Regions from separate parts of the Homo sapiens genome. Here region 2 is reported to be linked to region 1. The links are microRNA targets in miRTarBase. Many come from high-throughput screens and were not tested one by one. Region 1 holds a microRNA gene; the other region holds the end of a gene's coding sequence.
The links. Region 1 holds the annotated microRNA hsa-miR-5010-5p (AGGGGGAUGGCAGAGCAAAAUU, at 1,594-1,615, shown strand). A microRNA usually pairs through its seed, bases 2 to 8, with sites in the 3' UTR of a target mRNA and lowers its output. Matches are read on the target gene's strand: a 7mer-m8 pairs with bases 2 to 8, a 7mer-A1 pairs with bases 2 to 7 and ends in A, and an 8mer does both.

Region 1 (4,000 bases):
AGACGTTCGCCCAGAGATGGCATGGTGGAGCCAGCCCCCTCCACGCTGGCTGCACCCCTGTGGCCTGGGCTGTTGTGGCTTTACCAGCCAAGCCACTTTCTCCCATCCCCATGTTCTCAGTGATTTCCCAAGGCATTTCTGGTGTCCTTTGGGAGTGGAATCACGTGGGTTTTGAAAGGAACTGCGGTGAAAAATAGACCCTGACCTGAGGGCAGGGGCCGATGGGGAGGCCACTGAGCCCTCAGGAGTGTCTGAAAGCTCAGAAGATTCTGGTCTGGGCTCTGCGGGGGGAAGCCCCATAAGGGAGCGCCTCCTGGTCTTTGGTCAGCTTGACAGAGAGGCCCAGGGAAAGTACCTGGGGCTTCCAGAATATACCAAATTCAGAAGCCCACATTCACCCCTGACTGTGCTTGGAGCAAACCTGAAAGTTCACTCCCAAGAGCTTGTTCCAGCCCATTCCTTTATTCTGGAAATAATTCTTGGTATTGAAAGGAAAACTGGGACAAAGGGAGCTTGAGGAAAACGAAAACAAACAAGAAACTGGAGATATGCTATTTAGTCTTAACCCAAACAGATATGCTGTTTGGCCTTAACCCATGTGGAAATTTGTAAACTTTGTCAGGATTTCCCTGTGCATGGTGGTGAAATCATGTAGGGAAAAAAAAATTCACCGTGTAATCTCTTTAGAAGTCACAAAAGAAAAAGAAGGTTATCTTGCTCCCAAAAGGCTGTAAAAAGAATAAGTAAAGTGGCCATAGAGGCCTAGTCTTCTCAGGACAGTGTCCGGGTTGAGAGTCTGTCTCCTGAAGCGCACTCTGGGGAAAATCCCTTCCTGCCCTCCTGCAGGTCCTTAGGGTCCCAGACCCAGACAGTCACTTTCTCAACAGAGTGCCGTCAACTCAGCACACACTCCTCTCTTGAGCACAGAGCCCCAGAGGGAGAAGAACAAATGTGTTGAAAAGAATCTTATTAAGATGTAGTTAATTAAAATGTAATGTATTGAGGGGAATGGAGGTGTCCCAGGTGAGGGCTAAGTCAGGCAGGATTTTTGGGGAAGGCATTGCCGAAATCACCACCTGAGCTCAACACTGGGTGCTTCTGGCCCCTCCAGAGTTGAGGTGCCATCCATGGGAAGTGCAGTCCCCTGCCCTGGCCCAGGTTCAAAGCGCCAAGTAGCCACAACTCAGAATGCCTGCACGTTCCCCTCCTAGCCTTATATCTTCTCTCTGGTTTCCTCCCACGACAGTTTGACTTTGGGGACACCATGGTCCACCAGGCCATCCACACCATCGAGTACTGCCTGGGCTGCATCTCCAACACTGCCTCCTACTTGCGGCTCTGGGCCCTCAGCCTCGCTCATGCGCGTGAGTACCTCTCTCCGGGCTCCGGAACTCTAGTTTCCCCCTCTGTGGGCGCACTGTCAGTTGGGGGGCTTAAGTCAAATGGAAATTACATGAAGGTTCTGGAATTATTCAGGTTCCTGAACCCAAGGAGAATGAGTACAGACAGGAGGCTCAGCACTTGTGCCAGGTTAGCTCTGCATGGTGGTCCCACTAAGGCAGTGGGAAGCCAGGATCCAGGGAACCCTAGAGCAGGGGGATGGCAGAGCAAAATTCATGGCCTACAGCTGCCTCTTGCCAAACTGCACTGGATTTTGTGTCTCCCATTCCCCAGAGCTGTCTGAGGTGCTTTGGACCATGGTGATCCACATCGGCCTGAGCGTGAAGAGCTTGGCGGGAGGTTTGGTGCTGTTCTTCTTCTTCACTGCCTTTGCCACCCTGACCGTGGCCATCCTCCTGATCATGGAGGGCCTCTCGGCCTTTCTCCACGCACTGCGCTTACACTGGTGAGGGGCAGTGGGGCAGGGCGGGCATGGGGGTGGATGTGTCCTTAGCTGCGGTGAGAGGGCAGCTTTTCTCCCACACACAGCCCTGCAGCTCTGTGCAGGAAAGATGAGCTGGCCCTGCACTAGCTTCACCTCAGGACACCCCAGCACCGGCATTGCCACAGAGTTTCGGAAAATGGTCACAGAAAAGCACAGCTCAGCCTTCCCTAGGCTCTAGGGAGATGTCCCTGGTGAGTGGTGTCAGGTCCCGCTCCCTGCCTTTAGCTGTCCCCAGTGCTCCTGATTTTGGCTTAAAGGGGCTGCTGGGGTCTTAGGGTTTCTGGTTTTCTCTCTGATGTGTAACTCTTCTGTCTTCAGAACAGTGGAAGCAGCTCTGGAATGTATGTTAAGTGCAGGAAAGGCTAGAACACGCTGCACCCCAGCTTTATCCTCTTTGTTCTGTCATTGTGCCAGGGGTCTTTGAGTTGGACCCCTGGCAGCTCCATTGTGGACCGGAGGGATTCCTGGCTCTATAGGGTGGAGGTCGGTACACTCACGCAGCTTCTTCACATGGGCAGGTTTGGGGTGGTTCTGTTTGTTTTCTTTAATGAAGCTTGTGACTCTTAATGGCTGTGTGTGGAGAGAGCATGAGTTCAGCCTCTGGGACTGGGAGAGCGGGGGTGTGGTCTGGGCTGTGACCACCTCAAACCAGCGTTGCCAGATGTAGCACATAAAAGTACAGTTTGGCTGGGCACGGTGGCTCATGCCTGTAATCCTAGCACTTTGGGAGGCTAAGGCAGGTGAATCACCTGAGGTCAGGAATTCGAGACCAGCCTGGCCAACATGGTAAAACCCCGTCTCTACTAAATATACAAAAATTAGCCAGGTGTGGTGGCACGTGCCTGTAATCCCAGCTACTCAGGAGGCTGAGGCAGGAAAGAATCTCTTAAACCCAGGAGGCAGGGGTTGCAGTGAGCTGAGATTGTGCCACTGCACTCCAGCCTGGGCAACAGAGCGAGACTCTGTCTCAAAAAAAAAAAAAAAAAAATAGGGGAGGGGTTGGGGGCCAGGCACGGTGGTTCACTCCTGTAATCCCAGCACTTTGGGAGGCCGAGGCGGGTGGATCACCTGAGGTGGGGAGTTCGAGACCAGCCTGACCAACATGGAGAAACGCTGTCTCTACTAAAAATACAAAAACATTAGCCGGGCATGGTGGTGCATGCCTGGAATCTCAGCTACTTGGGAGGCTGAGGCAGGAGAATCGCTTGAACCCAGGAAGTGGAGGTTGCATTGAGCCAAGATCGCGCCATTGTACTCCAGCCTGGGCAACAAGAGTGAAACTCGGTCTCAAAAAATAAAAATACAGGGTGTATTTCACATAAACAACAAATAATTTTTTTAGTATGAGTATTTCCCAAATGTGCATGGGATATGCTTATACTAAAAACTGGGGCAGTCTGTATTTTCTGTGGCTGTTCCACCTCAGACTCCACTTCTTTGGGTCTCTATTTTCTCCTTTATGTTGTGATTCTCTTTTTGGGGGTCTCAAAACCCCAATGTCTCTGGAAGTTCTGGCCCCTCTCCCCAGAGGAGCACTCACACACTTCTCCTGTTTTACAAGCATAGGGGTCTGACTCACTGGTGTGCCTTAGAGGCCCCTGGATGGGATGCTCTGTGGTGTTCATGATCTCAAGGCCAGAAGAGGACTATGAATGTCTCTCTTCGTTCTCAAAACCTGAAGAAAATCCAGCATCTGAACCTGAGAAACTCATTCCCCACTCCCCTTTATCTTTGATTATTCTCATGGCTGGGTGACCCCTGAGCCTCCTCAAAGATTCAGCTGTGGGTTTTTCTGAATGATGGGCGGAGAGTGAGGCATGGAAGGGCAAGACGTGGCTAGGGTGCACTCTTCTTCAAAAGCCCTGCTGCGTCAGTAGACCTGGCTTCCTCTGGCCTGGCTCTCTCCCTCCTGGCCTCCCTCCTCCCCACCCAGCTCATCTGGCTGGCCTCCCTGTTCTAAGCTTATCAGCCGACCCCCGCAAGCACACTTCCTCAGCCCTCCTCAGTGCACGAGAACCTCTGAGGACTCACTTTTTCTTGCCCCTTGGCCTCCTTTCTTTTCTTTTCACTCCTGTCTCTTGAGCCCTGGGTTTGAGGGAACAGTGACCACCTCAC
Region 2 (4,508 bases), not on the chromosome of region 1:
AGGGTGGGAAGGAGTGAGGACCAGTCCCCAGTCTGTGGTCGTGCCTCTCCCAAGCCTTCCCTTCCCTCCCGGCCCAGGAGCAGATGGAGCAGCTGCTGCTCGGGGAGCAAAGCCTGGAGGCCTTCCTGCCTGCCTTCCAGCGTGGCCGCGCCCTGGCCCACCTGAGGCGGACGCAGGCAGAGAAGCTGCAGGAGCTGCTGCGGCGTCGGGAGCGTTCTGCCCAGCCGGCCCCCACCTCGGCTGCTGATCCCCCCAAATCCTTCCCGGCTGCAGCTGTCCTGCCCACTGGGGCCGCCCGGGGGCCACCAGCAGTGCCCCGGAGCCTGCCCCCCTTGGACTCCCGCCCAGTGCCCCCACTGAAGGGCTCCCCCGGGTGCCCCCTCGGCCCGGCCCCCCTGCTGAGCCCTCGGCCCTCGCAGCCAGAGCCCCCCCACCGGTAGGATCCACGGTGCGGCCCCCCAGTTGGGGGGCCTAGACAAACTTGATGCGTGGCTCCTCCTCCTCCCCCACTGCCTGGGTGGGGGGAGGGGCAGGCCCCTCCCCCTGGCCTCAGGCAGGCCCTGGCCCTGGAGGCTGAGCTGGGGAGGAGGGTCCCCTGGAAGAGGCCCGAGAGGGGGCTGGGGGTGGGTGGGCAGGGCTTTATGCCTCTGGCGCTGAAGACACCCTGCCTTTTTTGTTTCCGTGCCCCGGGGCCTCTAGGGTGATGGACCAGCCCCGTTAAAGAACTTGACTCAACTACAGGGGCCTGGGAAGATGCCTGGGTCCCCTAGGGGCCTTGCCAAGGGGACCTGTCGCACCCCACCACTCCACTGGGCTCGCACAACGCCAAGGCCGCCAGGAGTGTTTTACATCATGTCCTGAGCCTACCTTTCCCCCAAATTCTGGGGCCCACAGCCTAGGAGCCAGGTGATCAGGCCTCGGCTGTGGGGCCAGGGACACCATGGCCCTGGGGCTACTACGTGTCCACACATGCTCCAGACCCTGGGGCAAGGTAGGCCAGGGGCTTCTGACCTGTGCAGGTGAGAGTGGGCCATACCCAGGAAAGACCATTCTGTATTTTTCTGTCCCTGTCTCCTTAGAATGGAAGCTTTTTGAGGGCAGGTCCTTGTCTTTGTACGTTCTGTCCCCAGCCCCGCCTCTTAGGGGCCGTCAATAAATGTGATGATGAGGATGACGATGCTGCCCGACTCCTCTCTGCTGTTGCAGCCTCCACAGCTCAGCTCCTGTGCTTCCACTTCCTACTTTTGAGATGCTCTCCCCTCCTTTCTGCCCATGCAAAGCCCAGCTGTCCGGGTCCAACACCGCCGCTGCCTCTTCCATGAAGCCTTCTCTGATTACCAACCCGTTGAGAGCCTTTCCTAAATCTTAACTTCCCGGCATTTCCAGTCAGAAGCGCTCACTGCTCCATCTTGGTTCTCCAATTGCCTCACCTGTACGCATCTTTTCCTGGGTTGCCCATAAGCCCAATCGGGATGGTACCTGGTCTTCTCTGGCCTGCCAAATGACGGTCCCCACGGAGTGATGGAGGGCATTTTGCAGGACTGATGGCATCTGTCCTCAGCCAGGGGGAATGCTAGGTGCCAGTTTGGCTGATGATTGTGGAACAAGGAGGTGGGATATACCCTGGGTCAGCTTAGGTCAAGTCCAATGAGATGCAGTTTGGCAGGGAGGCGTGGAAGTTCTTGCAAACAAAAGGGGACAGTCACAGTGTTGTGGAAGCCTACAAAGCTAATATGGTGTTGGTCCATGTTAATAAGGACATAACTATCTGGAAAGAGGAAGGTGTTGGGGTAGCTTTGCTTTTCACTTAAGTTTTTTACTGGAAGAGGGTCCCCTCCCCCCACCCGCCCCAAATGGCACCTTTGGAGAAACAAGGATGAGAAAGAACAGTCAGTGAGGAACAGTTGAGGGATCTGTTTCAAATGTGTTTGTGTGTGATGTTCAGCCTTTGAATCTCTAAAGGGTTGGGTCACCTAGAACCAGAGGTTAAAGCCAAGACCAGTGGGTGGGAACCACAGGTCAAAGCTAAGACCAATTGGTGGAAACCGTAAGGGGCCGGATTTTGGCTCCGTTTGAGGCTCTTAAATTAGGGATGAGGCCAGGAGCGGTGGCTCATGCCTGTAATCCCAGCACTTTGGGAGGCCAAGGTGGGTGGATCACCTGAGGTCAGCAGTTCAAGACCAGCCTGGCCAACATGGCGAAAACTCATCTCTACTAAAAATACAAAAATTAGCCACGCATGGTGGTAGGGACTTGTAATCCCAGCTACTCAGGAGGCTGAGGCAGGAGAATTGCTTGAACCCGGGAGGCAGAGGTTGCAGTGGGCCAAGATCACGCCACTGCACTCCAGCCTGGGCGACAAAAGTGAAACTCCGTCCCCCCACCCAAAAAAAAAGTTAGGGGTGTTCTGTGAGGTGGATGGTCCCCATCCCTGACGATGTGGGGGCAGCAACTGCTTGATGGGCTTTTTAGAGATGTCGGCTGTAGCTAGAGGGATTGGGCTGTGGGAGCTTTAGAGCCTCAGGCCTAGACAGTCAGAGTGTCCCCCTAGTACAGGCACAGTTTAAGCACTGAGAGTGCCCACTTTAGAACCTCCATCCCACCTTGGTCTTGGTTCTACTCTCTTCACTGCTGGCACTTCAGCTGCTGGAGGCCAAGGGACACCAGAACCGCTGAGTTCCTGCTGATATGACCAAAGACTGAGCAGCCTTGGAAGACCTCTCCCCCATGCTCTCCTTCTCAGCACAGTCTGGGGCAGGATGGGCCCCTCCTGCCCTGGCTTCCCATTCCTGGTCCAAGCTTCCAGGGTGCAAAGCAGTCCATTCCCACGAAAAAGTACCTTTGTCCCATTTTTCTGAAAATGCATGGTTCCCTGCTGTTTTTTGTTTTTTTTTGCTTTTTGTTTTTTTTTGAGATGGAGTTTCGCTTTTCTCACCCAGGCTGGAGTGCAATGGAGCGATCTCGGCTCACTGGAACCTCTGCCTCCCACGTTTAAGCCATTCTCCTGCCTCACACTCCCGAGTAGCTGGTATTACAGGCATGTGTCACCAAGCCCGGCTAATTTTGTATTTTTAGTAGAGACGGGGTTTCTCCATGTTGGTCAGGCTGGTCTCAAACTCCTGACCTCAGGTGATCTGCCCGCCTTGGCCTCCCAAAGTGCTGGGATTACAGGCGTGAGCCACCGCACCTGGCTTTTTTTTTTTTTTTTTTTTTTTTGAGACGGAGTCTCGCTGTGTCGCCCAGGCTGGAGTGCAGTGGCGTGATCTCGGCTCACTGCAGGCTCCACCTCCTGGGTCCATGCCATTCTCCTGCCTCAGCCTCCTGAGTAGCTGGGACTACAGGCGCCTGCCACCATGCCTGGCTAATTATAATTATTTTTGTATTTTTAGTAGAGACGGGGTTTCACCATGTTAGCCAGGATGGTCTCCATCTCCTGACCTCGTGATCCGCCCGCCTCAGCCTCCCAAAGTGCTGGGATCACAGGTGTAAGCCACAGTGCCCGGTCCCCACTTTTTTTTTTTTTTTTTTGGCTCTCCTTCATGATTGACATGGTGTAGAGTTTGCAACCAAAAGGTAAAAAGGGGCAAAGGTTGGGCAGGTCTGGACCTTTCTCCACTATCATGAATTGGGGAGCAGCCTTTAGAAGGCAGCAGCTACCAGGTTGAGCCTCCCCTCCTCAGGGTAGGTAAGAAGCAGAGAAAGTTGAGACATGGACAAGAGAGGGACTAGGAAGAAGTGTTACCATGGGAACCAGATGGGGTCCTTCAGAAGGCCTCCCACACACCTTGTCTTGCACAGAGCTGATTCTTCTTTAGAGGGGCAGGGAGTGAGACCCCTCTGTGTTCAGCTCCAGCCTGAAAATGATCGGAGGCAGGTGAGGATGGACACCACCAGAGTGGAGTGGGCCCAGTTCTGGGTGGGCCATGGAAAGGCTTACAGTTGGATGGTTTGAAAAATCATTAACCCCTTTTGCTTGAAGGTACATGGAATGTTCAGGAAGGTTCTGGAATGTTCTGGAAGGTGCAGCACTCTGGGCCCTTCCTTTTGCCTAAAACCTTCTTGAACTTGCTGCTTCTAGATTCAGGGGGCCCCAGGAATGTTCCTGGCTGTGATCTGTGAGAGAAAACAAACTTGAGGGTCTGCATCAGGGGGCTCATGAAAAAGGTCCTACCTATTAGATACCATTTTGCTTTTACAAAACAAAACCAAAGAAGTCTCCAAATAAAACTCCCACCCCTTTTAATAAAAACAGAGCTCCCTGTTCCTCAAGAAAGTCTATTATGTACACCTCCTTGTTTGTGAATCACTAGCTTCTGCATTTTTCTAACCTTCCCCATCTTGGTTTCCAAATATGAAACATAGTAACATTAAATTGCTTTTTCTTTTTCCTAACCAATCAAGGCTCACTGAGCTAAGCAGGCTCCAACCAGTGTGGGCTCAAACCTTCACCACTGAATCGTGTAGTCCCTGCAAAGCCATGGCTAAGAACTTGCCCCTAACCTCCAAGG

Region 2: miRTarBase lists VPS37D as a target of hsa-miR-5010-5p. Seed matches in the 3' UTR shown: 7mer-A1 at 503-509 and 7mer-A1 at 871-877.

What each region holds. Positions count from the first base shown.
Region 1 is chr17:42,512,615-42,516,614 of GRCh38, forward strand. It overlaps MIR5010 (microRNA 5010), which reads left to right and starts at 1,574; the gene lies at 1,574-1,693. ATP6V0A1 (ATPase H+ transporting V0 subunit a1) reads left to right here. Exons shown (of 22, transcript NM_001130021.3): 20 at 1,247-1,364; 21 at 1,675-1,846. RefSeq lists an enhancer at 3,993-4,000.
Region 2 is chr7:73,670,937-73,675,444 of GRCh38, forward strand. It overlaps VPS37D (VPS37D subunit of ESCRT-I), which reads left to right. Exons shown (of 4, transcript NM_001077621.2): 4 at 78-1,174. The coding sequence ends at 440. Among named protein-coding and RNA genes, the nearest start is that of VPS37D, 5.4 kb to the left of the region's middle.